Linked DNA regions of Homo sapiens: all the other regions are linked to region 2. The links come from fine-mapping of genetic effects on gene expression. A gene starts in region 2. Each other region holds a variant in brackets. All regions are shown on one strand. Distances are between the middles of the regions.

Region 1 (2,760 bases), 170 kb after region 2:
ACAGGCATGAGCCACTGCGCCTGGCCTCCCTGTTTAATTTCTAATAGATATTACCCACATAGAAGCTCTTTGGGGGTTTTCAATACTTTTTAGGAGCACAACCTGAAACTAAACATCTGAAAATTTCTGCTTTACAGCAACCACTAAAAAAATCATGCAATGAGCAGCGCTATTCATTGTGGGGGAAACAACCCAAATGCCCATCAGTGGATGAATGGATAAATGGAAAGTGGTATGTGCATACAATGGAATACTAGTCAATCATAGAAAGAAATGAAATCCTGATACGTGCTACAATGGGGATGGACCTCGAAAACATTACTCTAAATGAAAGAAGCCAGACATAAAAGGGCATATGTTGTATGATTTCACTTATATGAAATGTCCAGGATAGGTAAATTCACAGAGACAGCAGATTGGTGGTTTCCAGGTGCTGAGGAAGAAGAGAATGGGAAGTGTGGCTTAATGGATACAGAGTCTTATTTCGGGATGATGAAAATGTTTTAGCTCTAGATAGAGGTGGTGGTTGCAGAACATTGTGAATGTACTAGATGCCTCTGAATTGTACACTTTAAAATGCTTATTTTAGTGTTATGTAAATTTTACCTCAATTTTAAAAAGTGCAACAAAATATCATTACAAATTTAACTTTTAATTTGATTTATTTATTTTTGAGACAAGGTCTTGTTCTGTTACCCATCTGGAGTACAGTGGTACACTCACAGCTCACTGCAGCCTTGACCTCCCAGGCTCAAGCAATCCTCGTACTTCAGCCTCCCTAGTAGCTGGGACTACAGGTGCGTGCCACCATGCCCAGGTAATTTTTGTGTTTTTGGTAAAGGCAGGATTTCACCATGTTGCCTAGGCTGGTCTTGAACTCCTGGGCTCAAGCAATCTGTCCGCCTCAGCTTCCCAAAGTGCTGGGATTACAAGTGTGAGCCACTGTCCCTGGCCAAAAGATCATTAAAAATTAATAGAGAAGGTGGCTCAATAGAACGCTGGCTCAAACCTGTAATCCTAGCACTTTGTGAGGCAGAGACAGGTGGATCACTTGAGGTCAGGAGTTCAAAACCAGCTTGGCCATCATGGTGAAATCCCGTTTCTACTAAAAATACAAAAAATTAGCTGGGCATGGTGGTGTGCACCTGTAATCCCTGCTACTTGGGAGGCTGAGGCAGGAGAATTGCTTGAACCCGGGAGGCAGAGGTTGCTGTGAGCTGAGATCGTGCCACCGCACTCCAACCTGGGTGACAGAGCGAGACTCCATCTCAAAAAAAAAAAAAAATTAATAGAGAAGTTAAAATTGAATTACAAAAATTACTTAGTTAACTCAAAAAAAAGTTACAAATGGAGGAACAGAGTAACTAAAAACATATAGAACAAACAGAAAATGAATAGCAAAATGGTGGCAGTAAACCTAACCATATCAAGAATAATATTACCCATGACCTAGCAATTCCTCTTCTAAGTATTTCACCAAAAGAAATGAAAAGAGCTATCTTCAAAAAGACTAGTATGTGGACGTTCATAGCAACTTTACTTGTAATAACCAAGAACTTG[A/G]AGCGGTCCAGGTGTCCATCAACAAAGGAATGGATAAACAAACTGTGATATATTCATACAATGAACTACAACTCAGCAATATAAGAACAAACCAGTGATATACACACAATATACATGAATCTAAAAAGATGCTCAGTGAAAGAAGCCTTACACAAAAGAGTACATACTTAATGATTTCATTTTTGTGAAGTTGTAGAAGTTATAGAACAGGCAAACATCTTTTTTTTTTTTTCTGAGACAGGGTCTTGCTCTGTCGCCCAGGCTGGAGTGCAGTGGTGTGATCTCAGCTCACTGCAACTTCTACCTCCTGGGTCCATGCGATCATCCCTCCTCCGTCTCCCAAGTAGCTGGGACTACAGGTGCACACCACCAATGCCCGGCTAATTTTTGTATTTTTTTAGAGATGGGGTTTTGTCATGTTGTCCAGGCTGGTCTCAAACTCCTGGGCTAAAGCAATCTACTCACCTTGGCCTCTCAAAGTGCTGGGATTACAGGTGTGAGCCACTGAGACTGGCCCAAACATCTATTTTTAAAAATCTAATTATTATTATTACTATTATTATTTTAGAGATGGGCTCTCACTTGGTCTCCCAGGCAAGAGGGCAGTGGCACTATTGTGGCTCACTGCAGCCTCGAACTCTGGGCTCAAGAAATCCTCCCACCCCAGCCTCTGGAGTAGCTGAAATTACAGGTGAGCACCACCACACCAGGCTAATTTTTAAATTTTCTGTGGAGGCAGAGTCTTGCTATGTTGCCTAGGTAGGTCTCCAACTCCTGGACTCAAACAATCTTGCTGCCTTGGCCTACCAAAGTACTGGGACTATAGGCATAAGCCACCTTGTCTGGTCAAGAGTGTGTACTTAATGATTCAATTTTTATGAAATTATAGGACAGGTAAACATCTATTTTTTATTTTTTTATTTTATTAATTTTATTTCATTTTACTTTGAGATGGAGTCTTGCTCTGTTGCCCAGATTGGAGTGCAGTGGCTCGATCTCGGCTCACTGCAGCCTCTGCCTCCTGGGTTCCAGCAATCCTCCTGCCTCGGCCTCCTGAATAGCTGGGATTGCAGGTACGCACCACCATGCCCAGCTAATTTTTGTATTTTTAGTACAGATGGGGTTTCACCCTGTTGGCCAGGCTGTTTTTGAACTCCTGACCTCAGGTGATCCACCCAACTGGGCCTCTCAAAGTGCTAG
Region 2 (2,760 bases):
ATCCCCAAAGACCACTTCCTCCTTTCACAGCTGGGGGCAGCAGAAGATACGGATAAGAGCTAAAGTTATGGCCGGGCACGGTGGCTTATGCCTATAATCCTAGCGCTTTGGGAGGCCGAAGCGAGTGATCACCTGAGGTCAGGAGTTCGAGACCAGCCTGCCCAACATGGCGAAACCCCGTCTCTACTAAAAATACAAAAATTAGCTGGGCATGGTGGTGGGCACCTGTAATCCCAGCTACTTGAGAGGCTGAGGCAGGAGAATCGCTTGAACCCGGGGGGCAGAGGTTGCAGTGAGCTGAGATTGCACCACTTCACTCCAGCCTGGGCAAAAGAGCGAGACTCCATCTCAAAAAAAAAAAAAAAAAAAAAAATCTGAAGTTATTAGTTTAAATCCTGGCTCGACCGCTTAACAGCTGTGTGACCCTGGGCAAGTTGCATCATACCTCTAGACCTCACTTTCCTCATCTATAAAATGGGAATAGCAATGTCATGGCCTCTGGCTGTTTTAAGGATTAAATAAGTAGGAAGTTCTTAGCCCAGTGTTTGGCACATAATAACAAACCATAATTAATATTCTCGTAGATGAGGAGATTGAGTCCCAGAAAGGAGAAAGGGGGAGGGCTCGCCCAAGGTCAGCTCCTGTTTCAGAGCTTGGAACAAGGTTCTCTGATCCCATTGGGTGCTCTCACACCTGTTCTGTGCCTGATTAGCACCAGGCAGGGCTGAGGGGCACTGGGATGACCTTGACAGTCCCTGTCCTCAGCCATCATACACTCCAGAGAAGACTGCACTCTGGAGCAGAGTTCTTAGCTCAAAGCATTCCCACTTTCCAGTGCAGAGGCAGGACATGTGGTCAGACCAGTGGCCTAACCTTGCCAGACTGGGGCTAGGCAAGGAGAGTGTTGCAGGTGGAATCGTGTCCCCCAAAAAGGCATGTTGAAGTCCTGGCCCCCAGTACTTCAGAATGTGACCTCATTTGGAAACAGGGTGGTTGCAGATGTAATTCGTTCAATTAAGATGAGGTCATACTGAAATGCATGGGACCCTAGCCCCATATGACTGGTGTCCTTATAAGAAGAAGAGACACAGAGGAGGGTGCCATGTGAAGACAGCAACACAGGAAAAATGCCATGTCAGTGAGAAAGGGGCTTTTGGGAATGAGAAGGCTTTCTGGATGTAAAGGTCAGGTTGGTGTGTCAGGGACAACCCCTTCCTGGAAACCTTGGGCTGAAAAAAAGGGACTGGGACCTACCCTGATGGGATGACCGTGATACAGTGAGGACAGCCAGGCTGGTGGAGGCTGTGCAAGGCAGGGGTGCTGGGTCATCTGTCCCTAAAGCGGGTAGCCCTCAGCTGGGTAAGGGGCTGGGTTACTGAGAAGGAGAAAAGGGAAGGCAGCTGTTAAACCGGCTGCTGACCTAGGAATCCCACTGCAATGAGAGAGTTCTGGGGGGAGGGTCTCTTCTCCCCCTCCCACCAGAACCTTCAACTGTCAAGCACCGAGCTAGCCACCAGCATGCTGTACTCCCCAGGTAGGCACTCATGGGGCCTTGCCCCACTCCTGTACCTCCTGCAGGCTAGAGCCTCCCCCCAGGGGAGGAGCTGTGTCCCGCATCAGACTGGGTGCCCCTTGAGGGTACAGAGAGTGACTCTTCCATCAGACTGGATGCCCCTTGAGGGTACAGAGAGTGACTCTTCCATCAGACTGGATGCTCCCTAAGGACAGGACCTGGGCCTCGTTCTCAGACTGTTTGGGGAAGGATAGGCCACTGGTGGTCAGACTGGGTGGTAGGCCGGGCAGGAACTCTTTCTCCTCTCCACTGACAGTTGGAGTTGGGGAGAGGAGAGGGGCCGGCCATCCCACTGTCATGGCTGCTGGGGAAAAGGGTTTGTGTGAAAAAGCCCACGTAGAGAAGAAAACTTTAGGGAACAGAGAGAACCTCTCCTAAGCCTAGAAAAGCAGGTCCCTCAGCCCAGGAAGATGAGATCCTCAGGGTGGCAGGGGCAGGACTACCTGAGGCAAGCCTGGGACCAGACTCCAGGAGATGGGGGAGAGTGGGCTGGGGGGAAGGGGAGGGCTGGGCAGAACTGAGTTGTTCCTGTGGGGCTAGGGTGCACAGAGGGCAGCCAGCCTTGGCCAGCAGAAGGTCAGCCCTGTACCTCACCCTCAGCCTGGGGCACCGTGAGACCATGGGCCCCTAGACCCAGCCTCCCAGCTTCTCAGGCCCTCCCTGTTTACCTGACCCTAGGAAGTTTAGGCCTAGCTGGTGACCCCAAACCCAGTCCTTGTTCTTCAGAAGTGCCCTGAGCCCAGGAGTTCAAGACCAGCCTGGTCAGCATAGCAAGACCTCATCTCAAAATATAATTTATTTATTTATTATTATTACTTATTAGTATTTATTTTTTTTTAAAGTTCCCTGACACAACATCTTAGTTTTTTCCCAGTGCCGGAAATCAAACTGTCCTTAAATCTATAGTCCCCTAATAACAATGTATTGCATTTAGAAAATCACTGAGAGAGGCCAGGCACAGTGGTTCACGCCTGTAATCCTAGCACTCTGGGAGGCCAAGGCAGGTGGATCATCTGAGGTCAGGAGTTCGAGACCAGCCTGGCCAACATAGTGAAACCGTGTCTCTACTAAAATACAAAAATTAGCCATGCGTGGTGGCGGGCGCCTGTAATCCCAGCTACTCGGGAGGCTGAGGCAGGAGAATCTCTTGAACCCAGCAAGTGGAGGTTGCAGTGAGCCGAGATCGT
Region 3 (2,760 bases), 43 kb after region 2:
GCTCTGTCACCCAGGTTGGAGTGCAGTGGCACGATCTGGGCTCACTGCAACTTCTACCTCCCGGGTTCAAGCAATTCTCCTGTCTCAGCCTCCCAAGTAGCTGGGACTACAGGCGCCTGCCACCACACCTGGCTAATTTTTGCATTTTTAGTAGAGATGGTGTTTTACCTTGTTGGTCAGGCTGGTCTCAAATTCCTGACCTCAGGTGATCCATCTGCCTCAGCCTCCCAAAGTGCTGGGATTACAGGCGTGAGCCATCGCGCCTGGCCATCAGGTTTTTATTAGATTTTTTTCCCTGTGGCATTGTGGTTTTTGCTGCTCTCCCTCCCCACATCAGATATGCTAGGCATGTCCTTCCTTACCTTCTCCTCAAGCTCCTCTGTCCACCCTCATCCCTCTCACTGTCCAGGAAACAGCTGTCTCCTGCCCCAACAACTGACTGTTCCCTCTGAGGCATTGCCAGAGAGGGTAGGGCCCCCACCTCCCACCCTCAGGGTCCTGTCAGCTGAGTGGGGGGTGGGGGGCAGTGGGCAACAGCTGTTGCAGTGGGGACAATGGCTGTATTCTATACAAGCTCCTTTCCTGGGCCACCTCCTCCTCCCTGGCTAGAACAACTGTTCTTGTGGATTGGGGAGTCCCATCTGTCTGTGCTAGCTACTCTTTCAGGCAACCTCCAACTCCCTGGCCCATTTTGCTCATGTCTTACAGGCATATCCAGTGTGTGTCCCACTGCCCGGTCGCCTGTGCATGGGTCTATCATTGCCTGGAATTGGTGGGCAGAGGAATGATGGTCATGGATAAGGGACCATCCCTCCAAAGCGCATCACCTCTTCTTTCAGTGGTCACATTCAGGCCCTAGCTCCTCACTCAGGTAGGTGGTTTCTGGCCTGTTGTCCCAGGCAGAAAGGCACTGTGATTATGACAGGGCTGAGCTCCCAGTTCCTGGGCTAGAACTCCGCCCATTCCCCACCCACACTGCCTATACCTGGCTGGCTCTGGTTCCTGGCCCCAAGGTCTCCCCACCTGCTCCTTGGTAACATCACCCCTTGACACACCCTGCCCTTGATGAGGCCTCCCTGGCTCCTTGTCAGAACTCCTTGTTTAGGGGTCAGAGCTGTCCTCAACCTCCCACAAACAGGAAGGGCCCCACACCAATGCTGATTTCCCAGAGGACAACAGGCCAGTGAAACATGACAGAGCGAGGGGCCACAGCCTCCGCAGGCCTCCCTTGATTCTTCAAGCATTAACAGAGCCCCAGCCTCTGATCTAAGTGCTGCCCATGAGCAGCAGGGTGCCTTGCATCAGGCCTCCAAGGAGCAGCAAGTTCTCTGCTGGCCTCTGACATAAGGGTGGAAGGAAGGAAACTAATATTTATGAGACACCTACCTGGTAGCCAAACTCTGAGCCTCACATTCTCCTCATCTCTTTATCTGGTCAGCTGTAGGTATTATTATAATTCCCATTTTAGGGAGGGGGACCACCCCATAGCACAGCTCCGGAAGGTGCCACTCTCAACTCCCGCTGTGCAATATACAGCCTGCTCTGGCATCCAGAGGGGCCCTGAGAGAGGGTCCCAGAGCCAGCATGTGGTTCCAGAGCGACCAACTCAGAAGCACCTCCAGCCAACTTCACGAGCTGGGACCCAGACA[CAT/C]GTTTTTAATGCAAGTCATGCGGAGGCAGTGGCCTGTCGCAGCATGCTCTTGAGCGCCTGGGTGGAGACATGCAGAAGGGGTGGGAAGAGCAGGACTCTCGGTGCCCGTGGGTCTGGCAAGAACCCATTAGCTCTAGTGCAACTCTTGCTATCATTCCTGCTTTCCCCATCTGCTGTCTGTCACTCTGGTGGCTCTTGGTGTGTCTGTCCTCTTCACCATTGACCCAGAGCCTTGCACGGGCTTTCACACAGTTGGCACACAATGTATGTTGTCATGTCTGGCCCGATTAACTGATGCCTGTGTATGGGCATCATCCAGAATGTTTCTGGATGGCCCTGGGCATCTGGGGAGTGGACCACAAAGGCAGATCCCAGGGGCCACTTAGTGCCAGCCCACAGTCCTCACCTTCACAGGTTGGTATCCAGATACTATTTTTTTTTTTTTTCAATTGACCTTAAGGAAACAGGAGATTTGGTCAGTTTCCTCAAAGTTGCCTGCAGAGCATGGGAGGCAGAGGTCAGGGAAGTGCAGGAAGGATCCATGACACAAGGCTAAACTGGGAACTGGAAGAAACTGCTCCCTGGCGGCTTTGTTCCTGACGAAGATGGTTATTTTTCCAGGAATGCTGAGGAAATCCACAGCAGCTTTAGTGTTCCCGCCTTGGAGAAAATGTCTGGGGCAGGCAAGGGAGGTGGGGTGGAGCTAATGGAAGTGAGGATGGGAAGGTGGTGGAGAGGGCAGTTAATCCCAGGAAGAGTCAGGGGTTAGAGAGTAAACTAAGACTAGATCCATTCCTTGGAGCCAGCCACTGCCCCTCCCCCACCTCCCTGCCCAAACCCCTCTGGAGTTCCCCATTGTTCCCAGAGACAATAGCTAGTTTCCTTTACCTGCCTCATCATCCCAGGCCCAGGAATCTCTCACTCTGTTTACAAGAGGCAGCGGTGGGGTAGGAGTATCTGGGCCTTACCCCAGGGTCCAAGGATCTCACCGCTGGAAGATCCCACAGCTATGGAAACTGAGGCTGGGAGGAGTGGGATGTGACTTAGCCAAGGTCACAGCAACCACAGATGTGGGCCAGTGCTTGGTGGGGCCTCCACGGTTCCCCGTG

The links. PIP is the estimated chance that this variant, and not a neighbour inherited with it, causes the effect.
Region 1: its variant is the best candidate, but not a certain one, in a credible set for the expression of CAPN11 in unexposed skin (GTEx, PIP 0.81).
Region 3: its variant is the best candidate, but not a certain one, in a credible set for the expression of CAPN11 in skin (TwinsUK, PIP 0.70).

Annotation. Positions count from the first base shown.
Region 1 is chr6:44,322,605-44,325,364 of GRCh38, forward strand. No RefSeq gene overlaps it. Among named protein-coding and RNA genes, the nearest start is that of AARS2, 11 kb to the left of the region's middle. The variant A/G (reference allele first, on the strand shown) is at 1,561.
Region 2 is chr6:44,157,331-44,160,090 of GRCh38, forward strand. It overlaps CAPN11 (calpain 11), which reads left to right and starts at 1,490. Exons shown (of 23, transcript NM_007058.4): 1 at 1,490-1,534. The coding sequence starts at 1,519. It overlaps LOC107986599 (a long non-coding RNA gene), which reads right to left and starts at 1,273. Exons shown (of 3, transcript XR_002956350.2): 1 at 1,255-1,273. RefSeq lists an enhancer at 2,667-2,760.
Region 3 is chr6:44,200,346-44,203,105 of GRCh38, forward strand. It overlaps a transcript of MYMX not described here. Among named protein-coding and RNA genes, the nearest start is that of MYMX, 15 kb to the right of the region's middle. RefSeq lists enhancers at 208-1,208, 1,209-2,208, 2,209-2,760. The variant CAT/C (reference allele first, on the strand shown) is at 1,650.